Linked DNA regions of Homo sapiens. The protein of the gene in region 1 purifies or fractionates together with the protein of each later gene. This does not show direct contact. Each region holds a gene or a part of one and is shown on either strand. Other genes may lie near its edges. The genes, in order: LZTFL1, BBS7, CEP250 and BBS4.

What was found.
Region 2: the proteins of LZTFL1 (region 1) and BBS7 purify together in Homo sapiens (affinity purification with mass spectrometry; 5 studies listed by BioGRID and IntAct, with this or other methods). This does not show direct contact.
Region 3: the proteins of LZTFL1 (region 1) and CEP250 purify together in Homo sapiens (affinity purification with mass spectrometry; 3 studies listed by BioGRID and IntAct, with this or other methods). This does not show direct contact.
Region 4: the proteins of LZTFL1 (region 1) and BBS4 purify together in Homo sapiens (affinity purification with mass spectrometry; 3 studies listed by BioGRID and IntAct, with this or other methods). This does not show direct contact.

Annotation. Positions count from the first base shown.
Region 1 is NC_000003.12:45,839,111-45,847,141, forward strand, and holds the start of LZTFL1 (leucine zipper transcription factor-like protein 1), read right to left. Parts: upstream 2,882-8,031; coding exon 2,879-2,881; exon of another isoform or gene 2,585-2,878; intron 1-2,584. UniProt on the Homo sapiens protein: Regulates ciliary localization of the BBSome complex. Together with the BBSome complex, controls SMO ciliary trafficking and contributes to the sonic hedgehog (SHH) pathway regulation. May play a role in neurite outgrowth. May have tumor suppressor function.
Region 2 is NC_000004.12:121,860,470-121,867,500, forward strand, and holds part of BBS7 (BBSome complex member BBS7), read right to left. Parts: intron 2,811-7,031; coding exon 2,748-2,810; intron 1,211-2,747; coding exon 1,035-1,210; intron 1-1,034.
Region 3 is NC_000020.11:35,514,597-35,519,810, forward strand, and holds the end of CEP250 (centrosome-associated protein CEP250), read left to right. Parts: 3' UTR 1-2,385; coding exon of another isoform or gene 2,386-2,433; 3' UTR 2,434-4,684; downstream 4,685-5,214. UniProt on the Homo sapiens protein: Plays an important role in centrosome cohesion during interphase. Recruits CCDC102B to the proximal ends of centrioles. Maintains centrosome cohesion by forming intercentriolar linkages.
Region 4 is NC_000015.10:72,710,190-72,717,220, reverse strand, and holds part of BBS4 (BBSome complex member BBS4), read right to left. Parts: intron 4,978-7,031; coding exon 4,914-4,977; intron 1,931-4,913; coding exon 1,819-1,930; intron 444-1,818; coding exon 371-443; intron 1-370.

The DNA.
Region 1 (8,031 bases):
CGGAGTCTCGCTCTTTCACCCAGGCTGGAGTGCAGTGGCGCAATCTCGGCTCACTGCAAGTTCCGCCTCCTGGGTTCATGCCATTCTCCTGCCTCAGGCTCCCGAGTAGCTGGGACCACAGGCGCCCACCACCACGCCTGACTCATTACTTGTATTTTTAGTAGAGACGGGGTTTCACCGTGTCAGCCAGGATGGTCTCGATCTCCTGACCTCGTGATCCACCTGCCTCGGCCTCCCAAAGTGCTGGGATTACAGAGGTGAGCCACCACGCCCGGCCCAGATTCTTAATAATTATTCACTGTCTATAGTATTACATTTACACTCTTTGCTCTCCCAAAACCTCCCAAACTCTCTTACCCTGTTTCCCAGGATTCTACTAAATGAACACTCTACTTTAGCCACACTAGTCTGCTCATCAGTCCTGAAACATGACTTAAAATTTCCTGCCTTGACTTTCACTCATGTTACTCTGATCCTAAAGTATCTCTCCATTCCTATTTGAGAATCTGAATCCTACCCAGTGGTATGATGGTAAATATTTAACAGCAGGTTTTCTAGGTAGGGGGGCCTGATTTGTAGCACTGCTGATTTCCATGGCATAAATACTTCCATCATGGCTGATTTCAAGCCACCAATATAATGTCACTGAATGAAGAGGTAAGAAGAAATGCATACAATTGGATCTCACCAGCCAGTACACACATGCTCCACCACATCACTGAATTCCTACCCACCCTTCATGGCCTAACCTGTTTCACCTACTCTGTGCCATCTCCCAATATGCCCTCAGTAACTCTATAGGTATGCCTTCCTCCAAAACCTAGCATATATAATCTCTGCTACTTCTTTGGTACCGTCACAGGCTGATTACTACCTCGTATTATTGATTATCTTTTTTTTCAGGTCTTGCTCTTCCAAGTAGATTGTAAACTCTATGAGGGCATGAACCATTTCTTATAATGCACAACACCTAGCATAGTGCCTTGTGCCAGCAGGTGGCCAATTCCTATCTGTTCATTCCTTTCCCTCCTTTCAAGGAAAGTTAAGACTGTCCCAGGACCAAGAAGGAAAAATTACTCAAACTGAGAAGGGTAAATGACAGAAAAGTTCCTTTAAAATGGATTGGAATGAAGAAAGGGGGTAAAAGTGGACAGCTGAGTTCAAAAGGAAAAATAGCATCAGCCTAGGAAACGGCTATTCACAAACCTTTACTTCCACACATATACTATATGTATCTATGTCAAATCATTAGAGAGGAAATGGAATAGGTAGATATGTGGTATAATAGACAAAGCACTGGATTAGAAACCAGGTTTAGGTCTAGCTATGCAACTATCTACCTTGGTAACAGTCTGTTACCAAGTCACTTAACCCCAATGACATTAGTTTTACTATCTGCTAAATGAGAGGTAGATATGATGATCAGTCCTAAAATGGTTAGAAACAATGGGAGGTATCCAAGTGGGGAAGTCAGAATTTGTTTGAATTTTATTGTAGAAATATTCCGTTAAAATAATAATAAAAAGAGCTGAAAACATACAGCAAGAAATCCTGCCAGAGCATTGCCAAGCTAGTGTCTTGAAATTGTACCACAAATTGTGTATGTGTGTTTAGGGGGAAGGGGATAGAAGAGAAATGGGTAAGGTACCAGAAAGGGTTCCCTGTTCTTAACCATGCCCACAAATCCATATACAATTTAAGATAAGTACAAGGAGGAAACTGTAATGATAAAAATGAGCACAGTTTAATAATACCTATCAGATACTGAATGCTTAATATTTTCACAGGTACTGCACTGTTTACACGCATTATCTTACTTATCATATTAACAGTCTTGTGTAGTTATTATCTGCAATTTACTAATGAAGAACCTGAGCCTGATTCCAAAGCCTCAGTTGTTAACTGATGGAAAGGAATGACAGAAGATAGAACAGGAAGAGATACCAATTTTTTTGTGATTTGTTTTCAACGTGTTCTCCTGATATTTTAGGGAAATCAAGAGAATGAGTGGAGAGGCTCTAAACTCAAGAAGGGGAGGGAGCAATCTGTTTAGCTCACAGGTGTCTTCTCAGCTCCCAGACAGCGCTTGGAACACAGTGTGGACTAAATAGAAATTCTGGTTGCTGAAGTATTTCAGTAGCTATTTCAGGTGGTGCTCTCAACCCTGGTTTCATCCGTTTTCCTGAACATTTCAGTGCTGTGCACTGTTCTAAGTATGACTGGTATTTAAGATGGCATGCTATATTCGCTGGAGGGATTAATGATATTTTTTGAGCAAGCCAAAACAAAGGAAATGTCACCCAAATTCCTCAGCTGTAATACGGGGTGCTGGGATTCTTAAAGTCACCTCCACATCAGAAAGTTGGATTTCAATCACACAGAAAGCTGGATTCGTTCTCCCTGCTCCTCTGGTTACCGCGCGCGCGCGTGTGTCTGTGTAAACCTTAGAGCTTCCTGAAACTGAGTGAGAACCCTGCGTATGTGTTAATGTGTGTGTGTGCGTAAACTTGGAGCTTCTTGAAATAGAGTTAAGAACCCTGCCGTGCACCTTAGGCCGGCAGCAGTTTCCTCTATCTCTCCTCACCTGCCACCTAAGAGTTGTGCCTTGGCTCCAGCCCCCGCAGGCAGGAGAGAAACGAAGCGATGCGGCGGAGCTGGGCTGCTGGGAAAAGGCTTCACCCAGGATTACCCCAGAAGGGCTTGGGCTGCGGTTAACCGAATCTCTCGCGCCCGGCGCAGCTCCCCTTCTCAGGGAGGCTGAGGTGCGGCCAGACCCAACGAGGCCACGTAATCATTCCGGGCCCACCCGCTCAGTGTCTCCAGCCCCGGCCGCGCTCTCTCCTGTGCGCGGTGCGGCGCCTGAGGGTCGGTTACTCACCATGGCGGCAGGCAGCGGCGGCAGCCTAAAGGAACGGGAGAGGCCAGGCGGTGCCCCGCCAAGCCTGGGATCGCCGAGGGTAGTTGGACCACAGAAAATGGGGAAGGAGGGTAGGTTGTTTAGAAGCCTCTGGTTGCTAACGGAAACCGAGGCACGTGGACTGCAATTATGCATTTTCATTGGTCCTCAGGATCACGCGACAGGAAGTATTGCGTAACCGGTTGACTGCCACATGCGCATTGGCTTCCAGGGCCGGAAGTCCCACCTTTTTGTGCCAGTTCACTTTTGGGAGCTGACTGCAGTTGCAGAAGGTAGCGGGAGGGTTGGGCTGCCTGGAGTTGCGTGTGGCCACCAACGCGCTTCGCGCCTCGTGGCGTCCGCTTATGGATTGTTGGGAAGTTCTTGTCCAGAACTTCCTGTGGCATAGGTGACCCCAAGGATGAATGGACATCCCAGACCTTTCAATGGTCTCATAGGGCGCGGCCCAGACATTTTTTTTTTTCAGGAGTTCCTACCTGAGCATCAGGGTGGCTGAGACAGGCCAACAACACCAATGCCAGCAGGTTCTCAAATAGAGCTTCAAACGACCCCTCCCCATGACTCCGCCCATTATTATTACTGTGTTGTTATTATCTTCTCTTATATTTCCAGCTAAAAGTCTCTAGCAACATTTTTCCATTTAAAAAAAATGCAAAAAGCATGGGTTTTCTCCGAGAGCAGTGAATTTCAAAAGGTTCCATATGCCTGGAACTACTATGGAAGCTTGTTGAACAAATTCCTGGGCCTTATCTCCAGAAATTCTGATTCACAAGTCTAGCTTGGGTCCTTGGGATCTGCACTTTTTAACCGATGTTCCAGGAGTGATCACAGATCAGGACCACTCTTAGAAACACTGGCTTGGAAGGACAAGTGTAGGATGAGATCGATTATTGCAAATACCAGGGACTCAGAGTCCTTCACTCACATGATACAGAGGTGATGTGCAGGCATTTGCCCACAGAAGGATCTCAAGCCTTGGGTCAAGAACAGTAAACAAGGTTCTCCTGTGTGTCACCTGGAGCATTCCAATGCACGGAATGATGGCCTGAAGGCAGTGGCGTGGGTATGCCCAACTTCAGCTTTGGCTAGGCTCCCTACCCTTGGCACTGCAATGGCATTTGGGCAGGATCCCTGTCTTCTTGAAAGATTCCTAAGGGCAGATTCTCTCAACCCTGAATATTAACCCCTTCCAAGCTCAGTTAAACTTCCCCTTTACCATCCCACCTCCCCATTTCTGTTTAGTGAGTGTTGTTGAATTTGGTTGCCATTATTTAGTGCCTACTATGAGCTATTAATAGACACATTCCATTCCAGTAGTTAATCCTCATAATACGTGGTTCTTTCCTCTGTAGACATTCGTTGTGTTCACATAGTGAGAGGGTCACTTTACAAGGTGTTGTGGGTGCGAGATGAAGTTCATAAAAACTTTTATGACTGATCAGTAAACAAAGTTGGTCATCAGCTTGCACTGCTGAAAAGCTCGTTTATTTTCTCCCAGGCCAAATCTTGTGATTGCGAAGTGTTATCAATTCAAGGGAATGAAAGGAGCGTGTGTATAATGCAAATATTACATTTGTGGCTTGGGGATTTTAAAATTTGTTCTGCAAAACTCCATCAGCTAGTTATTGTAATTTAAAATTCTGCTTTAATCTAAAATCTTCTATACCAAGGAGGTTAATCACCATTAGCCAATCTACCCAACAGAGTTGAGTGTTGTTACATAAGCTGTCTAAATAGTGTCAGCAAATCTGAACATGAATTTTAGTCTCAAAAGTGATGAATTTGGCTCATGAAAAGGCTGAACTTGTACTTCAGGTTGTTTACTAGTGCGGGTTGGTCACCAAAGCAAACAATTCGAGCCGTGAGGGAGAACAGCTCCATCCTACTTTACTAGTGATCTTCTTAGGCTCTGTTTTTATTTATTTTAATTGCTGTGACAGTTTTTTAAAATGTGTGTATGTGTGAGTGTATGTGTGTGTGTAAATTTGGAGGGAGGCACACAAGTCCATTTTTTACCTTTTAGCAGAGTTCAACATAAATAAAATGAAGATAAATTCTTTTTATATTATTATGAAATGAGACTTATGACTTTATAAGTTCCCAGTCATCATACTAAGACCACCAGTTTCAGGGTGTTTGCAACCTAGACTTGGCAAAAGGAGGAATGGAAAGCTGATCATGGCCTCCTCAGGGATGCCAACAGATTCACTCATTCTGCCACTATTTACAGAACCCCTGTTGTGTGCAAGGTTCTGTGGCCATGATAGTGAGTCTGAGGAAAAAATCTGAGGGGAAAATCTGAGGGAAGAAGTGGAGGGACTCAGAAAGCCCCAGCTGCCCCTGCACTATAAATTTTGGGGGGATGCAGGGGGACTAAGGTGAGGCTTTACTTAAGTAGAAAGAGGAAATGAAGAAAATGATTAAGTAAAAAAAAAATAGGTGATACACAGAAAATGTAAAAATCTGAAAGGTTATATGGGAAAGAGAAAAGTTTGATAAATATTGAACTGGTAGTAGGTGGAAAATAGGGGAAATTATTTTAGGACATTATTCTTAAGAAGACAGGATCTTTGCAGCATGGCTTCTTGCATGAAGTTCTACCATACAAGTTCTCTTCAACTTCCCCATCTTGCCCCACCTTGGCTGCTGAGAAAGTAGCCAAGACCTTATAGAAGAGAAGGGCCCAGATTACAGGGCTCTTTACAGGAGATATGCATTTGAGTAGGCCTGAAGTAGGCAAGAGGCTATTTTCAGTTGCTTTCAAAACACCCTAGTGACCAGCAGGGTATTGGAGAGTGCTGACAAACTAGATTAGTGAAATCACTATCACATGCATTAAAGCAGGTCAAGCAAGGAAGTGGTTCACCATAAAATACAACTCCCTCTAAGAATGTGTGGATGTTGGCAATTACTTAGCCCAAATGATAGATTAGTTTCACTGATAATCTCAATGCATTAACAACACCCCAAAGGGAACAAACACCGAAACCATCAAAATGAGAAGTCTACCTCAAAAAATTTTAAGAATTGGTTGTGGGGAATACCTTCTTGTAAAGTACAAGAAAAATTGATTGTAAAGATGATGATACGCACCAGCTCCTCTTTCCATACTCCCTTATGCATATACATTTCAGTTAAACCCACAAGCTCAGTCTGTATATTCAGCAGCTGTTAATGGAAATCTGGATACTCGCAAGACACAATGGGGAAGGGAATAATGAACAAGATGGGATTGGTCTCTTTCAAAAATGGCCTTATAATCAAGTGAAGGGAGAATTCAAGCTTGCAGAATAATTTCAAAGTAGACAGTAAGTAGTAGGGTAGTTCAGAGAGGGTGCGAGATAGTTCACTTCTGTTGAGGCTGGAGAGGAGAGATTCAGAAAAGTCTTCCAGAAGGCAGTGGAATTTGGGCTAGGTTTTAACAGGAGTGTGGAAAAGTTGGGGATGAGTGTGATGATTGTGAAATTGAGAGTTGTCTTGGACAGGGAACCAGAATTTTCATCAGGTGCTGCAGTAGAAGTGTCCAGAGATGTACATTTATTATTATTACAAGTGGCAAACTACAAAAAGAGATATACTGACAGCTTATACAAGGATGGAGCACCTTTAAGAGTGTCTTATTCAGAAATGTGGGTCTTCCTAGATCTGTGGTCTTCACTAAATGTTTCCATGGACTTCTGGCAATGTAAGGGTGTTCACCAATTGCATTTCATCATAGAAAATGTAAACAAAAAATTAAATTTGCTCAGAAAGTTTTGCCTACAAAGCTGGGGCTGTGTAGTCCTATTGGAAGAGCTGAATAGCTGTGTCATGAATAGCTGTGTTCATGACTGGAAGTTTTCTCAATGGGATGGATAAATAAAATATGAAAAATAAAGTGAACTCAAACGGAAATGTCATTTTTAGCCAGCTTATATGAGTTTGTCTTCCCAACTACTATGTTGCAAGCTCCTTGAAGGAAGAAATATTTATTATATAATAACATAGTATGGCTGGGCTATAAGAAGCTCTGAGCTATGCTTGCAGAATTAAATTGGAGATAAACAGGAACATCTCAACAAACATTTGTGAGTTCCTACTGGGTTCCAGATACTGTGTTTGTGGGTTGCTTTTGGCCCTGGACATGCCCTCTCTTGGAAAGCATATCATAAGGCAGCAGACATATTCAGCTATCCCTGTTTCCCATGTTAAATGTAACTTTGAGGTGATTTATATAACTTTTAGGAGTTTTTGAGAATGAATTATTTAGTTCTCATGACTTAACCCTTATGTTTTTATATAACTACTGTTTGAGTTCTACTTTGACTTAATGCTACACTTTGAAGACATTCCATAAAACAATTACTAATTTATATTTTGTGGTTTCTTTTAATATTTTGAGCCCAAGCATTTACAGTTGCTCCTTGAACAACACAAGGGATAATGGTGCTGACCCCATGCACAGTCAAAAATCCACATATAACTTTTGACTCCCCCAAAACTGAACTACTAATAGACTGCTGTTGACTGGAAGCCTTACCAATAACATAAATAGTTCATGAGCATACATTATGCATTATATGTATTATATACTATATTATTTCCATAAAGTAAGCTAGAGAAAAGAAAATACTAGAAAATCATAAGGAAGAGAAAATATATTTACTATTCATTAAGTGGAAGTGGATAATATAAAAGTCTTCATTTTGAATAGGTTGAGGAGGAGGAGGAAGAGGAGAGGTTGGTCTTGCTGTCTCGGGTGGCAGAGGAGAAAGAGTTGGAGGAGGTGGAAGGGGAGTCAGGAGAGAAAGGCACACTCGGTGTAACTTTATGGAAATGCATAATTTCTGTCTGACTTTTTCTTTTTTGTTTATCTAAAAATGTTTCTACGTGGTACCAGTCCTTCTTCCGCCATTTGCATGTTTCAGTGCCTGCATAATAGAAGGGTCCATGTCATAAAAGAAGTCAAAATCAGTCTTGAATAATTGAAACCATTCTTCCAGATTGTCTAATGTCAATGTGTTTTCTGGCACTACTTCTACATCTTTCTCATTATTTGGCACTGGTTCGGAAGCACTTATCTCCATCAACTTGTGTTCAGCTAATTCCTCTGGTGTGGTGTCTATTAGCTCTTG
Region 2 (7,031 bases), on another chromosome or scaffold:
CCATCTTTGCCACTCTAGTAAAAACATTTAAGAAACCACTTGAAGAGACTGTTACTGAGAAACTCTCTATCTTTCTCACACTACTATCCATATAACTGTCCGAATGTAGAGTTATGCTATTAACACATTACTTTCAGTATTCCATAATTATCATTGGCCATGTCTATATACAAGTGTATTTCAAAAGTGTTACTATTCTTGTTAAACCATTTGAAATTACATATTTCCACTTATCATGGTTTAATTTTAATCTAATTTCACCAAGCCAATGTTTTACATCCCAAACATCAGGAGATGTGCTGTGCATTATACAAAACTTTGGGCTGAATCAGTTGTTTCTAGCCTAAGAGTCTGGCTGATTATATAACTTGGCTGCACTAGATTCAAAGGAAGAACTTAAAAAATAAAAATAAAACCTACTCCTGGTTATTTTGATTCGGCAGGTATGAGGTAGGACAAGGAATTGTTTAAGTGGCCCAAGGGATTCTTCTAAGTAGCAAATATAAGAAATAATGAATTAGATGAATTTTAAAGCCCTTTTCAGCTCCCTGTGATTCAAAAACTCAAATCTGAATTGCAAAATCTCACATATCAGGCAGCCATTTAGGGAGCTATATTTCACTTAGAGTCTTACCTGATATACCTGAAATTATACCCTATTGGTAATCACTAACTTTGACAGCCAGCCTTTTAACATAATGATGCTACCTGAAAACCAGAACTATCAAAAATAGCCAAGGAACATAAAGCTAAATATCTAGATTTATTTTCAATTTTTTTGATACCTTGATCATGAATCAAACTGAACCAAGTTGTCAAAAATGATTGTATAAATACTATAAAGTTCTTTAAAAAAATTTCAACAACCAATTTAATATTGATTGTAGGTCAAATTTAGTTTCTGACTAATAAAATACCTTTAGTTAATTTTATTTTCCAGAAAGCCTATTAAGATATGATACTTAGTTGCCTCACATCTATCCAAAATATTATAAATAAGTATGTAAAAATACAAAAGAGAACAAAAGACATACATAGCTTTAATGCTTTCAGTGAGGTTTGTTTCAAAGGAGAGGAACTGTTTTCCTCTTTTTGTGAAGCCTCTAATCTCAGATGCTGCAGCAATAAAAATTTTCTCCTGAGGTGTGTTGATAACCCCTCCCAGTTCCAGCCTTGCAATCTTCGGCCCGGGTAAAGTCTTGAACACTGCCTGAAAAAAATCATTCAGGAAAAAAGTACACAAATTACTTTATTGTGAGCATTTTTTCCTTTACAATAGAAAATGTTATGATGTTAAATTTGCAAAATATTATAGTTCCACTATATAGAAATAATTTTAGATAATAATCTATATACTTCAGCAGGTCTTCAGGTTTTTTGCTATACTTAACTTTTAAATATATATTCCCACACATATTTGAATGATGTCATTGAAATCTAAATCCTTGTAATTCAAAGTACAGTTCACTAAGCAGCAATGTTAGCATCACTAAATTTATTTAAAATGCAGCAGATCAACTGAATGAGAATCTGTATTTTAACAAGATTCCCCAGCTGGTTCCTATGCCTACTGAAGTTTTAGAGGCATTGGATTAACAATACTCCTACGAACAGGGAAGTCCATTTGGCAAATTCTTTAATGAGGTCCAATGAACATGTTTTTACACTTCAATCATCTTTTAAAACTAATCTTTCCTGGCTTCTTTACAATTTTTATAAATTTTAATAGTTAAAGGACTATAGAATTTACTGAAAATGTGAATGTATGACTTAATACCTATAATCATATATCTATTTAACTGAAAACAATATTCATTTCATTAATTTTTTTGTGGTTATTTTCCATTTTATTATTTGCACCAGCTTCTTCTCCTCCACTTCCTCCCCATGACTTTATATACAGAGAATAAGATATCTGGGAGAATATGAATAATGGAAACACTGAGTTTCTGGTAGTTTTTATTCTCTTCATCTTTCTGGAAATTCCATATAATATATAATGAATACTAGAATTCACATCTCAGACTCATCATTCTAAGTTTCTAATTATGATCTGTAAATATGATAATGTAATAGTAATAACTTCCTTGATTAGGTTAAATTAAGTGGAAAAGGTTGTGGGTTAGTTGCTTCCATGATTACATTATGCTACATAAGATTCTTTCTTAGCAGACTACAGAAATTTCCTGCTGGCTTTGATGAATTAGATTACCATGTTGTGAGAAGGACTGTAAGAGAACCACAGAGCAAGAAATTGCAGAGACCTCAAGGAATTGAGAGCAGCCCCTGGTTTACAGATGTTAATAAAGTGGGGACCTCAGTCCTATAATAGCAAGGAACTGAATTCTGCAAACAACCACATGAGCTTGGAATAAGACCCCACACTCTAGAAAGGAACACAGCTCAGCTGACATCTAAATTGCAGCTGTGTGAAACCTTGAGCACAAACTCCTGTGCTACAGAAACTGTTAGATAATAAATGTGTGTTGTGTTAAGGCCCTAAATTTGGGGTAATATATTACACAGCATAGAAAAGTAACCCACGACCACAGGATGCCAAAGGTGCCTTACAACTAGCTAGCAAATTACTTTTGTGCTACCCGCAGACTCATATCTCACATAACTACTTACCTCAGAACCCATTTTCCATTACCTGTATTTTAGGAAATTTTTAACCTAGTATTATTCAATAAATAGTGCATTCTCTTTTAGAAAACCATTTTTCCCCTTCACAAAGCTATACTTACTGCTGCTTCTCCTTTCTTCATGCCAAAGCACATAACTACCCCATCATGATCTCCAATAACCACCTGTAATAGATGGAAGATAATCTAAAATTACTATTATTAATATTATGACCTAATAATTATATACAGGGAAAGCAAGATTCTTAATTTATAAATACTGACTTAATAGAGATCAGAAAATCTAGGAAAGACACCCCCACAAAAAATAATCCTCAAAAGAACAAGAGCCAAAAGAGAAGGATATGGAGAGTCATTAGAAAAGTAATTGGCCATAGATTTTGTTCCTATAATGTTAATAGGACAACACAATATATTTTGTTTTGCTTTTTTTCAACTTTTATTGTAGGTTCTGGGAGTCCACATGCAGGTTGTTACGAAGGTATACTGCCAGACAACAGTTATGGACAGAAATGCCTACAAAGTAATTTTTTTTTCATAACTGGAGCATAAGAACATTTTAAGATTAACTTTTAAAACAGATTATCAAATAAAGTTGTGACTGACATATTTAATAATTTTAAACACCTTTTTTAAAAGAAAAATTTTAATGTATGAAAATGTACACAAAATATTATAATGAATTATCATGTGCCTATCACCTAGTTTCAACAATTACCAACATGTAGACAATGAATTGTTTTGAAATAAATATAGAGGGACATTTTAACACTTCTTCCTCAAAAGTAGATATCAAACAACCTTAGACCAGTTCCAGTACGTGGCCTGCTGGGTACCAGGCCACACAGCAGGAGGTGAGCAGCGGGAAAGTGATCATTTACAGACTGAGCTCCGCCTCCCGTCAGATCAGCAGCGTCATTAGATTCTCATAGAAGCACAAACCCTATTGTGAACTGCGCATGGTTGTATGCTCCTTATGAGAATCTAACTAATGCCTGATGATCTGAGGTAGAACACAGTTTCATCCCAAAACAATCCCAGCCCCATTGGTGGAAAAACTGTCTTCCACGAAACTGGTTCCTGGTGCTAAAAAACTCTGGGAGCTCTGATTTAAGAAACTACTACTTATCAAGTTTAGGCATAGTATCAAACAGAGAGTCACAATCATCTGAAAAAGCTATTTAAATACCCCTCCTTATTTCCAGCTATGTATCTGTGTAAGCTGGATTTTCTTCAAATATTTCAGCCAAAACAACATAGCACAGCAGATTGAATGCAGTAAACAAATATGAAAATCTATGTGTGTATGCTTATGCCAGGACATTAAACAAGTTGCAAAAAGTATAACATAATGACACTATACTCACTAAATTCTTTGTTTTGAAAAATAGTTATTTTTCATAAAGACATGTTATGTAAACATGTAATAATTTTTTTAAAATAAAATAGTTTAAGCATTTCTTAGTTTTCATTTTAATATAGTAAGTATTGATACATACAACTTACATAAACAAATGTTCTTTGGGATCCTCAATCATTTAATTGTGTAAAGGGGTGCTGAGACCAAAAATTTTGAGAAGTGCTAATCTAGTAGACTTAATACAGTAAATGACAATCAGAAATCTGTTGGTTTATCTTTTTTATTTTATTCATTTATTTTTTAATTGACAACAATTGTACATATTCGTGGGGTACATAGCAATGTTTCAATACATATAACATATACTGATCACACTGGGATAATTAGCATATCCATCATCTAAAATACTGATCATTTCTCTGGGTTAGGATCAGTCAATACCTTCTTTTTAGCTATTTGAAACTATATATTGTTAACTATAGTCATCCTATAGTGGTATAGACTACTTGAGTTTTTTCTTCCTATCTAGCTATAATTTTATATCCTTTAATAAATATCTCCCTATCCCTCCCTTCCCTCTACCCTTTGCAGCCTCTAGTATTCTCTGTCCTACTTTTTACTTTAACGTGACCAACTTTTTTTAGCTTCCACATATTAATGAGAACATGTGGTGTTCAACTTTCTGTTCCTGGCTTATTTCACTAAACATAATGTCCTCCAGTTCCATCCATGTTACTGCAAATGATAGGATTTCATTCTTCTCTCTCTTTTTTTTTTTTTTGAGACAGAGTTTTGCCCTTGTCGGCCAGGCTGGAGTGCAAAGGTGCCATCTCAGCTCACTGCAACCTCTGCCTCCTGGGTTCAAGCGATTCTCCCATGTCAGCCCCCCAAGTAGCTGGAATTACAGATGCCTGCCATCGTGCCTGGCTAATTTTTGTATTTTTAGTACAGATGGGGTTTCACCATGTTGGCCAGGCTGGTCTCCAACTGCTGACCTCAGGTGATCCGCCCGCCTCAGCCTCCCAAAGTGCTGGGATTACAGGCGTGAGTCACCATGCCTGGCCAGGATTTCATTATTTTTTATTGCTGAATAGTATTCCATTGTGTATATATACCACTTTTTTTTATACATTCATCTGTTGTTAAACACCCAGGCTGATTCCATATCTTGGCTATTGTGAACAGTGCTGCAATAAAACATGAGGCTGCAGTTGTCTCTTTGATATGATGATTTCCTTTCCTTTGGGTAAATTCCCAGCAGTGGGGTTGCTAAATCATATGGTCGCCCTATTTGTAGTTTTTGAAAAATCCTACATACTGTTCACTATAGTGGATGTACTATCCCACCAATGGCACAGAAGAGTTTCCTTTCTCCACATTCTTGCCAGTATTTGTTGTTTTTTGGTTTTTTGTTTTCTTGTCTTTTTGATAACAGCCATTCTAACTGGGGTAAGATGATACTTCATTGTGGTTTGATTTGCCATTTTCCTGATGATTAATGATGTTAAGTATTTTTTCATGTTTTTTTGGTCATTTGTATGTATTCTTCTGAGAAATGTTTAGATCATTTGCCCACTTTTTAATCAGATTGCTTGTTTGTTTGCTATTGGTATGTTTGAGTTCCTTGTATATTCTGGATATTAATTCCTTGTTGGATGAGTAGTTTGCAAATATTTTAAATCCCATTCTATAGATTGTCTTTTCACTCTTGTTGATTGTTTCCTTTCCTGTGTAGAAGCTTTTTGGTTTGATATGATCCCACTTGTTTATTTTTGCTTTTGTTGTTTGTGTTTTTGAGGTCTTATTCATTAACTATTTTCCCAGACCAATGTCCTAAAGCATTAACATTTAGGTCTTTTTTTGTTTTTTGTTTTGTTTTGTTTTGTTTTTTTGAGATGGAGTCTTCCTCTCCTGAGTAGCTGGGATTACAGGTGCCTGCCACAATGACAAGCTAATTTTTTTGTATTTCTAGTAGAGATAGGGTTTCACCATGTTGGCCAGGCTGGTCTTGAACTCCTGACCTCAAGTGATCCACTCGCCTTGGCCTCCCAAACTGCAGGGATTACAAGTGTGAGCCACCACACCTGGCCACATTTAGGTCTCTGATCCATTTTGTGTTCATTTTTATATGGGGTGAGAGGTGGGGGTCTTGGTTTCATCCTTCTGCATATGAATATTCAGTTTTCCCAGCACCATTTATTGAAGAGGCTGTCCTTTCCCCAGGGGCTGTTCTTGGCTCTTTTGTCAAAAATCAGTTGGTTGTAGATATGTGGATTAATTTCTGAGTTCTCTATTCCATTTTATGTTCTCTGTGTCTCTGTGTTTTTATGCCAGTATTATGCTGTTTTGGTTACTACAGCTTTGTAGTATATTTTGAGATCTGGTAGTGTAATGCCCCAGCTTTGTTCCTTTTACTCAGGATTGTTTTGGCTATTTGGGGTCTTTGTGGTTCCATACAAATTTTAAGATTTTTTTTCTCTTCCTGTGAAAAATGACATTGGTATTTCGATAGAGATTGCATTGAATCTGTAGATTGCTTTGGGTTGTATTGTTATTTTAACAAAATTAATTCTTCCAATCCATGAACATGGGATGTTTTTCCATTTGTTGGTATCCTCTTTAATTTCTTTCATCAGTGTTTTATAGTTTTTTTTATAGAGGTCTTTCATTTCCTTGGTTAATTTATTCCTAAGTATTTTATCTTTTATCTATTATAATTGGGATTGTGTTCTTGATTTCTTTTTCAGCTAGTTTGTTGTGTATAGAAACACTACTAATTTCAGTATATTAATTTTGTATCCTGCAACTTTACTGAATTCATTTGTCAGTTCTAAGAGTTTTTTGGTAGAGTCTTTAGGTTTTTCTATATATAGGATCATGTCATCGGCAAACAGAGATAATTTGACTCTCCTTTCCAATCTGGATGCACTTTATTTCTTTTTCTTGTATAATTGCTCTGGCTAGGACTTCTAGTACTATGTGTAATTGTTGATTCATCTTGCTAAAATGTTTATATATCAGGATAA
Region 3 (5,214 bases), on another chromosome or scaffold:
TTCCCACATGGGACTGCCAGCACCCTGAAGGCAGAAAAACTGAATGTACCCGTTAAAGGAGGAGAAGCTGGTGGTGTATGTTGAGATAAGGAGGGTGGGGAGTGTACAGTTACAGGCTGCACAGGGAGGGCAAGATCAATGTTGACACCAAAGTGCCAAAGGCTGTCTGCGCCAGGTCTGGGGCCCCCACTGGTCATACCGCCTGATAAAACCATTGCAGTCCACACTAGGTCTGGAGGCTTCGACACCCACAGCATGTGGGTGTTCTCATGCAGGCCATGAGTATTCGGGGTGCTTTAAGTGCAGGGGAGTTCTGTTGTCCACGTTATTCTTAAAGCCCAGAATAGGCCCTGTTTTATTCTACAGAGATAGGAAGGCACTGGGGCTCACAGAGTGGTGCTGCTTCCCACCCTCACCCTTCTGCCCCCACCTGAGCACAGTGTGGTGCTCAGTGATGGTTATCCTATATTCCAAATACGCATGGCCCAGGACTGGCAGAGTCGGAGCTCGGGGTCTAGCTGTGACCTGGGGATCGGTTGGAGTAGCTTCTTGACCAGCCGGAATTGGGTTAGGTGTCCTAGCATTGGTGCCTATGGAGAAGAACACAGACTGTTTATCACTCACCCCTGGTTCCAGTACCAAGGAAAGGCTGGAGCCATTGCAACTGGAGGCCCAGCGGAGGAAGGGATCAAGAAGAGGATGCAGCCCAGAGCCCAGGACCGAGCATCCACCGGCCTCTGGAGATGGCGTGGTCTCCAGTTGCATCGGGGCTTCAGGGCCCATCTGAAGTGCTGATCAAACCAGGCAGACACACCATGCTGGTGAAGGCAGGCTTTGTAGATGCGGGGCTGAATTGAGCAGCCACAGAACCTCTGCAGCTCTGGGGCCAGTGGCAGAACTTCTAGAAGTACCTGTGGGGTGGGAAACCCCAGCCACAAAAGCAGTGAGCTGACTTCCAGGCCTGAGGCTTTGCCTGCAGGCCTCATCTCAGCCCATGGGACAGATTCCTGGTTTTTTTAGTTTGGCCTTGGGGTAGATGATACCTTCAGCTGTCCACCCTGCAATACCTCACCTCCTGCCTTCTGACCCAGTACTCTGCAGAGCGGGGGAATGGGGCCAGGGGACAGGGGCAGGGAAGAGGAAGAAGCAAGAGCTGCCAGTGTGCTCCAAACCAAGAGAGCCCTCCACATGATTCTGGGCACAGCTGAGGAGGAGTGCAAGCTCAACTCTGCTCACCACACTTAAGAAGCAGGCAAGGGAGGATGAAGGGCAAAAACATGGGGTCCTGAGGCCCTTTTACTCCCTCTACCCTGCTGGAGGTGAGGATGAGAGGTGAGACTTCGTTGGACTGTGCTCCTGGCCAGTTGATCTCACCCAACTCATTACATCAGTAGCCTGGTCACAGGGTGGACACTCTGACCTCTTCTTAGCCTTTCATTGGCAATACTACCAGCTCTATATATGCCCTTATAGGGCCTGAACCTTGGCTCAGGTGGATGGGCTTGGAGGTAAAATAATTGAATGGGTCAGGGGTAGGAGGAGAGATGAGTCTCTGCCAAGGCTGTGTGATGTGTCATCTGAGAGAGTGGGTAACCCCTATTCCCAGCACATGGCCATTTATTTAGAGCCAGGGAGGGGGACGAGAATTCATATTCAAATGTGATTCTTTCTTAATTACTACCAGTTGTTCAGGTGAGGGAATCAGGGAAGGCCAGATTAATAATCCACACATTGCCCTTGCACCTCCTGTCTTGGTTTCCTATCAAAACCTCTCCCGTATCTATGAACATTCCAGCCCTGCAGGTCAGATTGCTGGCCAGGAGTAGTCTCACATTCTAGCTGACTGATGGCCTCGGCTTCTGCTGTTGTATGTGGTTTGATGATTCATGCTGGAGCCTTTGGCTATAACTCTCTTCCCTGTATAAGGGCCATCTGAAGTTTGTCTGCCTGACTCCATTACCTGGTGAATGAGATTGGCTAGCTGCTGCTCCTGCCCCAGCTATTCAGTCATTTGGCAAATACTCATTTAAACAAAGCTCCACAGGGATCTCTGAGAAGGAGCTCACCTCTAGGCACACAGAACCTGGACACAGATGAAAGTTTGCAGAATGACCCAGTTGTGCAGAAGAGACCCACTGGCTGCTCTCAGTGAGGCCAGGGAGAGTCAAACAGAGCATCTTGGACAAAGAGAGGGCTTGAAGGCCCTTTCAAAGTGTCAAGCCAGTTGGATGCACGGGTTGTGTGGAGTCCAGGGGTACATCCAGAAGCAATGGCAGGTGTTATCCATTCATTCAGGTTAGACCTCTGAGCAGACGGCAGAAACGTCAGCCACAGGTGAGCATAAGCTCAAACCCCCCCATTGAAGGCTACATTCTTGTCCCACAGGGCAGAGCACATGGCAAGTGGCATGCTGACTCAGACACCGGGCACTGAGAAAAGTGGGAAGCCATGGTCACAGACTCTACATTCCCCTCTCCTGTTGGCCTCCATCCCTTCCTCAACCGTCCGCAGAACACCTCCTTCCAGCACCTTAGCTCCTGCCTCCCTCTGGACCTATTCAGTCCTCAAGGGTGCCCTGCTAAAGGCTGGGCTGAAAGCTAAGAGGAGAGGTGGCATTCAATGTGTCCTGTGTCCTCCCTGGGGTTGATTAAGGGGTCGATGCCCAATAGAGTCCTTCATCTTGGTGTTCAGCCCAGGGTCCAGCTGCCAAGGGAAGGCTTGGCAATCAAGGGTGATGGAGATAAGAATGAAAAGGGGCACCACCCTGTGCCAAAGCTGGCATGTTGTATATCTGAGAGAGGAGCTGCCTATTCACAGTGTAGGGTTGTCAAGCTGGAGGCAGGGAGAGAAAAGCAAGAGCTTTTTGGTTCCTCTTGAGGATAGAATCTATAGGAAAATGTAAGAGGGTTAAAAATAAATTTCCCATGCATCCAAACTTTTTTCTTTGGTAGACTTTCTTGTCATCTATTTAAAATGAAACAAGTGCATGTACGTGGTTAAGACATTTTAGCTAGGAATGATGGTGCGTGCCTGTAGTCCCAGCTACTTGGGAGGCTGAGGCAGGAGGATCGCTTGAACCTGGAAGGTCAAGGCTGCAGTGAGCCGAGATCATACCACTGCACTCCAGCCTGAGTGATAAAAGTGAGACCCTGTCTCAAAAAAAAAAAAAAAATTAAAGAAGTTAAACAGTGCCGGGCTTGGGGGCTCACGCCTGTAATCCCAGCACTTTGGGAGGCCCAGGCAGGCAGATTGCTTGGGCTCAGGAATTCAAGACCATCCTAAGCGAAAAAATATAAAAATTAGCTCAGTGTGATGATGTGCCTGTAGTCCCAGCTACTCGGGAGGCTGAGGTGGGAGGATCACCTGAGCCCAGGGAGGTCAAGGTTGCAGTGAACCATGATCATGTCACTGCACTCACTCCAGCCTGGGCAACAGAGCAAGACTGTCTCAAAAAAAAAAAAAAAGGAAATTAAATAAAAAGAAGATAGCAGTTTCCCACCTCATTCTTCTCAAACTCCTCTTCAGAGGCAGCGGGTTTTGTTTTTTTTTTAACTATGTTTTTCTACTGGCTCACTTTATTCCTCTAAAATAGTAACTTGTCTATGTGGTGCCATAACGGGTCCAGTATCTGGACACGAGGCCGCACTACCTACACCTTTGGGGATTCTCGGATCCTGACTCTGAGCTACCTCATTCCTAGACACCTGGTGCACCACAATGTGTCAGGGATGTCGGTTTATGTGGGATATTTGCATTTTGTTAGGTTGTGTGTGGTAGTTGAGCAGCCAAGGGGGTAGCATGCGGTGGATATTTGTTTTAGATACACAGTAACTGGAAACTCATTTACTGAGGCTATTTGGTTACCCTGAACTACTGTTTCTACCAAAAAGGCAGGATAAATGCTCCCTCAACACACACCTTTAATTACCAATTTTCAGAGTAAGGGGTTGAGGTAATAGCCACCGCCAGTTTTCCCTTTCTCTTTGAGTATCATTATGAGCTCAAAGTTTTTTATATATTCACTATGATTCAATCATGACAGTTGCTATTTTTGATGCTCAAATTGCCGCAAATCTAATGTCCAAGTGTTCTTGTACTTGTCTAGGCCTAGAATCTTTTAGTGAAGAAAAAGTATTTAGAAGACAAAAATCAGGCTGAGTGCAGTGGCTCACGCCTGTAATCCTAGCACTTGTGGGAGGCTGAGGCAGGCGGATTGCCTGAGCTCAGGAGTTGGAGACCAGCCTGGGCAACATGGTGAAACCCCGTCTCTACTAAAATACAAAAAATTAGCCGGGGGTGGCGGTGTGCACCTTGTAGTCCCAGCTACTCAGGAGGCTGAGGCAGGAGAATTGCTTGAACCCAGGAGGCAGAGGTTGCAGTGAGCTGAGATCGCGTCACTGCACTCCAGCCTGGGTGGCAGAGCAAGACTCCGTCTCAAAAAAAAAAAAAATACGAAAAACAAAAAACATAATCTGGATTGCAGGGCTGATCGTTGCTAATGGAGTGTTATGGCTGTTCAGATGACAGAGGGAGAAAATGTACTTTGTAAACTGTTAGTTCAATGAGGTTATGATTGCACAACAATGTGAACATACTTAATGCCACTGAACTTTATTGCCATTGATAACTTTTAAATGGTAAATTTTGTGTATTATTTTGTCACAATAAAAAGTTTGAAAATCGAGTTCATAATATTTCCAGTTTGGGCCGACCACGGTGGCTCATGCCTGTAATCGCAGCACTTTGGGAGGCTGAGGTGGGTGGATCACAAGGTCAGGAGTTCGAGACCAGCCTGACCAACATGGTGAATCCCTGTCTGTACTAAAAATACAAAAATTAGCCGGGCGTGGTGGTGCGCGCCTGTAATCTCAGCTACTCAGGAGGTTGAAACAGGAGAATCACTTGAACTCGGGAGGCGGAGGTTGCAGTGAGCCGAGATCGCGCCACTGCACTCCAGCCTGGGCGACAGAGTGACACTGTCTCAAAAAAAAAAAAAAAAAAAAAAAAAATTCCAGATTGAATTTAATGTCACAGAGTTTTTAGCCTGTCCACCTGCCCAATTTTGTATTGTTTCTTTTTTTTTTTTTTTTTTTTGAGATGAAGTCTCACTTTGTCACCTAGGCTGGAGTACAATAGTGCGATCTTAGCTCACTGCAACCTCTGCCTCCCAGACTCAAGTGATTCTCCTACTTCAGCCTCCCAAGTAGCTGTGAT
Region 4 (7,031 bases), on another chromosome or scaffold:
TGAAAGAGTCAATTGAATGTCACACAGATGGGGACGGGAAAAAGACATGAAACACAACTAGATGCCTATTGCTGATACTGTGGAATTCCAATGACGAAAAAAATACCCAAAGCTTCTAGGGGTCATCAACAAGAATCAGACTGGTAAGAGACTGCTCGTCAGCAAACTGCTAGAAAATCATGCAGCAATGCCTGCAAAGTTATGAGGAAACATGGTTTTTGATCCTATACTTATACAAATCATGAATTAAGTATGAGGTTAAAATCAAGACATTTTTGGAATGTAAGAATTCAGAAATAAGACAGCCAGATGATAAATGGAACCATTAGCAAGTTTACTAATAAGAAAGAACTGAAAGTTCTCTACTTACCCAATCTTTCTGGTTGAGTTTAGCTGCTTCATTATATACTTCAATGGCAGCTTTATGTTTTCCCAAAAGAAATCTGTAAAAGATATATTTTCCATAATTATTACCTCAAAATTCTTAGAAGACTAACCCTACTAGTCCCACATTTTAATCATATTTCATCCAGCAGAGAATTCTAGAAGCCTTTTCTCTATGAGGTGGTTGTGCTGGTTTGGTCAGTGAAGCTGCTATACACTAACAGCAGAAGCTCTCTTAGTAGGGATTGCACTGGCAGCTGTTCCAAGGCCTTGGTCTCATTCTATACCAATTTTAGTGAGAGTCTTGTGGAATTTTTCTTCTACAATGTACTATAAATGCAGACCAAAAAAGAAATAAGCCTAATGATATACCATGTTAAGCAGTAACTACCATCATTTATCATCACCCATTAGGGACACATCCTTTCCTTCCAAGACTAAGTCTCTTTCCTTGATATTGGATCCTGAGTTTAGAGAGAAACAGGGAAAACCAAGCTCTATGCAAAAACAACACAGGTATGAATGGCAATGTGGCTAAGAAAGGGGAGATAGGAACTCCATGGAACAAAGGACTGAAAAGGGAGTACCTAGTAGTTTATAAACACTTGAGATTCTTTCCATCTAGGAATCTTTAGGACATTCACTCAACAAATAGAGATGCTCCTCAACTTATGATGGGGTTACATCCCAGTAAACCCATTGTAAATTGAAAACACTGTAATTCAAAAATGCATGTAATACATCTACTCTACCAGACATCATAGATAGCCTAGCCTATCTTAAGCATGCTCAGAACACTTACTCTGTTCCATGGAGTTCCTATCTCCACTTTCTTAACTACATTTGCTGACAGTTAGGCAAAACCATCTAACACAATGCCAACTTTATAATAAAATGCTGAATATCTCATGTAATTTACTGAATACTATACTGAAAATGAAAAACGGAATGGCTGTATGGATACTTGAAGTACAGTTTCTACTGAATACATAACAATTTTACATCATTGTAAAGTTGAAAAATTATGTAAGTTGAACCATCAGAAGTCAGGAACTCTCTGTCCTTACTAAAAACTTACTGTGTGACAAATACTAAGTGTTAGAAGAGTAGATGAGAAAAATTCCAAGGATTGCCAATAAGTTTAGAAGACTTAGGGTACAAGGTGTCTCTATTTACATGATAAACAATATTGGTCCCCCATCAAACTAGAATGCACAGTGTTTAAAATGCTTAGTTCCTTAACACTAGTTATCTCATTTTCTCAAATTTCAAACTTAATCCATGCTCTTCAGAGTGAATCCCACTGTACCTATTAAACCATTCCCCCACTTGTGTATCAGGCTGATGCAGCTGCCAGCAGCAGGCTGGACCTAGGAATGCATTTTACACTGTTCTCTGTGAGTGCCCTAGGGCCTCCAGGTTGCCAATACTCACAAAGATCTGGCCACCTGCTTGAGGTTATCAGCACTCTGAGGACTAAGAACTGCACATGTCTGGAAGAGTTCTAGGGATTCTTGGATATTTCCTTCTAGGCGAAATATCAATGCTGCCAAGAAACAGAAAATACAAAAAAAAGTAAAACCATGTTCTGGGAAGAATGGAGCCTGGGGTCAGAAAAATTGGAGAAGAGAAAACTGGGAAACCACATCAAGTAAATCCTTTGGACAACTGTATCCTTAAAACAATCAGATATGGCTTTGGACAGGCTGAAACAACAACCAAAACTGCTGACAAGCTCAACTGTCTTTTAGCAAGGTAGCTCAAACCTACCTACTTCTCTCTCTACTCCCAGGATCCATCACATAGATAATCAGTTCCTTTGCAAATTATCACACAAACTCTTCACATTAACAACATTTTGGGGCTTCCCCATCAGATGCTTCATTTATCATAATTTACTTCCAACTGATAGTTTTCAGAGCGAACCCCCAAATGGGGCAAATGGAATCAATACCTCAAATTCAACATGGAGATTCTGGCAAAGGATAAAGTAACATTTAAGACTTCAGTTGTCAGTGTAACAACCAATTAGAACCAGAGGTTTTTCCTAGGCCTATGTTTCCAGAAGAATTTATCAGGCACTGAAAGTCTGATACTTGTGACACTGGGAATAAGAGCATTTTTTGCCATGATGTCCTAAATTTGTCAATATCTTAACAATTATGTCAGAAAATTATATGTTAATCTGAAGACTACAAATGCAATGAATGGTAAACAAAACCATTTATTTACACCCAAGAGTCAAAAAGAAAGTTCCTGGAAAAACTAAGAATGCTACTTATGCCACTAAAGAGGAAAATTTAAGTCAGTGGGCCAGGTGCAGTGGTTCATGCCTGTAATCCCAGCACTTTGGTAGGCCAAGGCAGGTGGATCACCTGAGGTCAGGAGTTCGAGACCAGCCTGGCCAATATGGCAAAACCTTGTCTCTACTAAAAATACAAAAACTAGCTGGACATGGTGGCATGTGCCTGTAATCCCAGCTAATAGGGGGGCTGAGGCAGGAGGATCGCTTGAACCTGGAAGGCAGAGGTTGCAGTGAGCTGGGATCGCACCACTGCACTCCAGCCTGGGCAACAGAGCAAGACTCTGTCTCAAAAAAAAAAAAAAAAAAAAAAAGTAAGTGAGTGGTCCTTATCTTTGGTTTCTAATGAGCTGAATTTATGCTCTGCTTTATCTTGTTTATTTCCAGGCTTCTTCCCCTCATCCTGATTCACCTTACAGAAATCCTCAAGCTCTTCTTCATCTCTTTTAGCTTGATTACAAGCAATCCTTCCAAAAGCATCTTTTGGCCCTGAAATCACTGCATTAGGCAGGAATCCTAAGCATCCATTCCAAAAAACACTAGCCAGAAACTAAAAAATGGGTAATCATAGCAATTTTTTAACATTACTAGTCATTTCTGAAGTCAAATCCAACACAGTAATTATATTCAGATTCCATAAAAAGATTAATACTGAATAAAACCTTTCTGGAACATTTAAACTCATGCACCTGTAATGACATTTTGGTCGACAGCTGTATAAATGATGATGATCACTTAAGATTATAATGAAGAGGAAAAATTCCTATTGCCCAGTGACGTCATAGCAATCAAAACAGTGCAATGCATTACTTACCTATCTGTAGTGATGCTGGTATAAACAAACCTACTGTGCTGCCAGTCACATAGAAGTACAGCATATACAATTACATATATATAGAACTTAATACTTGATAATAAATGACTACATTACTGGTTTATGTATTTACTACGCTATACATTTTAATCTTTATTTTAGAGTGTACTCCTTCCACTTACTAAAAAAAAGAATAACTGCCTCAGGCAGATCCTTCAGGAGGTATTCCAGAAGGTATTCCTATTGTTATAGGAGATGACAGCTCCATGTATGTTATTGCCACTGAAGACCTTCCATAAGGAGGTGGAAGACAGTGATATTTATAATCTTGACTCAGTGTAGGCCTAGACCAGTGCGTGCGTGCGTGTGCGTGTGTGTGTGTGTGTGTGTGTGTGTGTGTGTGTGTCACAAAGACCTTAGATGGGTCACAAAGCTCTGAATGCCAAAAAAGACAGCAAGGACACATTCCACATGTTAGTACCACCACTGTAGTAGTGTGTGTATCGTAGTTTTTAACAAAAAAGTTTAAAAGTAAAAAAATAAAAAGTTTTAAGAATAGCATAAAGGGCCAGGTGTCGTAGCTCATGCCTATAATCCCAGCACTTTGAGAGGCTGAGGCAGGAGAACTGCTTGAGCCCAGGAGTTCAAGACCAGCCTGGGCAACAAAGTGAGACTCTGTCTCTCTACCAAAAAAAAAAAAGAAAGAAAAAGAAAAAAGCTTATAGAATAAGGACCTAAAGAAACTATTTTTGTACAAATGTACAATGTTGTTGTGTGTTTTAAGTATTACCCCAAAAGAGCCAAAAAGTTTTAAAGTTTATAAAGTAAAAAGTTATAGTAAGCTAAAGTTAATTTATCATTGTAGAAAAAATATTTTTAAATAAATTTAGTGTAGGCTAAGTGTACAGTGTTTATAAAGTCTACATTAGTATACAACATAAAGTCTACATTAGTATACAATAATGTCCTAGACCTTCACATTCACTCACCACTAACTCACCCAGAGCAACTTCCAGTCCATCCATGGTAAGTACTCTATACAGGTATACTATTTTTTATCTTTTATACCATATTTTTACAGTACCTTTTCTATGTTTAGATACACTTACCACTGTTTTACAACTGCCTACAGTATTCGGTATAACACCTGCTCATACAGGTTTGTAGCCTGGGAGCAACAGACTATATCATGTGTATAGTACACTATATCATCCATCTATGTTTGTGTAAGTACACTCCATGTAATGTTCACACAATGACAAAATTGCCTAACAACACATTTCTTAGAACATATCTCCATTGTTAAGTGGTGCATGACTGTACTTGAACTTGTTTCTTCAATTGCCTGATCTTTTTCAAGAACCTAGGAAAAGTGTATTTCTCTAGCAAGAAGACAAGAAGTATGTGTCTTACCTTGGACATAGATAGCATATTCACACAATCCCTGAGTCTCTTGAAGCTGTTCTTTGATAACAGCCTGAAAGAGGGAGAAAAATGCTTCTGAGCAGTGGTTAAGTTTCTTCAGGTGTCTTTAAGAAAAAGTGGACATGGACAGGCCAGGTGCGGTGGCTCATGCTTGTAATCCCAAAACTTTGGGAGACCAAGGCAGGCAGATTATGAGGTCAGGAGTTCAAGATCAGCCTAACCAATATGGTGAAACCCCATCTCTACTAAAAATACAAAAATTAGCCGGGCAGTAGTGGTGCGTGTCTGTAATCCCAGCTACTCAGGAGGCTGAGGAAGGAGAATCGCTTGAACCCAGGAGGCGGAGGTTGCAGTGAGCCAAGATAGCGCCACTGCACTCCAGCCTGGGCAACAGAGTGAGACTCTGTCTGAAAAAAAAAAGAAAACAAATAGTAATGAAAAAGCAGACGTGGACAAGAATCATATGTAAAAAAACCTAGAGTATTAATAATGCCTAGTAAAGTATTAGTTCATTCAGTTTCTTAAAATTTCAACTCCCTTGTTGTGATTACTTCTTCTAGAACAGGGATTTGCAAACTACAGGGCTTACAGGCCCTGTATATTTTTGTACAGCTCTCAAGCTAACAGTGGTTTTTTTATTTCTAAAGGGTTATAAAAAATAAGATAACAAATATGATGTAGAGACTGTATGTGGCCTACAAACCCTAAAATATTGTTGGCCCATTACAGAAAAAGTTTGCCAACCCCTGTCTAAAATCTAACTAGGCAAGCTAAGAAAAGTGTGATAAGATTTCCAAGTATTATCACAGATGAAAAAGAAAGAGAACCTTTCAAGATTCATACTGGTGGCCAGGCGCGGTGGCTCACGCATGTAATCCCAGCACTTTGGGTGGCCGAAGCGGGCAGATCACCTGAGGTCGGGAGTTTGAGACCAGCCTGACCAACATGGAAAAACCCCATCTCTACTAAAAACACAAAAAATTAGCCAGGCGTGGTGGCACATGCCTGTAATCCCAGCTACTCAGGAGGCTGAGGCAGGACAATCGCTTGAACCCAGGAGGCGGAGGTTGTGGTGAGCCGAGGTCACGCCATTGCACTCCACCCTTGGCGACAAGAGCAAAACTCCATCTCAAAAAAAAAAAGATTCATACTGGTATCTGCCTTCGGATCAGCGGTGTCAAAAAAAACTGGTATGGGCCGGGTGCGGTGGCTCACGCCTGTAATCCCAGCACTTTGGGAGGCTGAGGCAGGTGGATTACGAGGTCAGCAGTTTGAGACCAGCCTGACCAACATGGTGAAACTCCACCTCTACTAGAAATACAAAAAAAAAAAAAAAAATTAGCTGGGCATGGTGGCGGGCACCTGTAATCCCAGCGACTTGGGAGGCTGAGGCAGGAGAATTGCTTGAAACTGGAAAGCGGGGGTTGCAGTGAGCCGAGATTGCGCCACTGCACTCTAGCCTGGGCAATAAGAGCAAAACTCCACTTAAAAAAAGAAAAAAAAAAACTGGTATGAATCTTTGTCATACCAGTATGAATTAGTTCTGTGCATTGCCATAGGTATAAATGCCATGGGTATAAATTAAAAACCTTAGATGGGTCACAAAGCTCTGGATACCAAAAAAGATGACACCAAGGATACATTCTGCATGTTAGTACTACCACTGTCTGCCTGCAAGTTTGTAACACATATGGTATGTCACCAAAGATACAGAGAAAGGGAAATACAAATGGTTTTTAAATATACACATGATGATCAACCTTGCAGTAAGAGAGAAATTAAAAAATAAAACTCAGGGCTGGGCACGGTGGCTCACGCCTGTAATCCCAGCACTTTGGGAGGCCAAGGCGGGCAGATCACAAGGTCAGGAGTTCGAGACCAGCCTGGCCAATATGGTGAAACCCCATCTCTACTAAAAATACAAAAAATTAGCTGGGCATGGTGACACTCATCTGTAGTCCCATCTACTGGGGAGGCTGAGGCAGAAGAATTGCTTGAACCTGGGAGACAAAGGCTGCAATGAGCCAAGATCATGCCACTGCACTCCAGCCTAGGTGACAGTGAGACTCCATCTCAAAAAAAAAAAAAAAAAAAAAAAAACTCGAC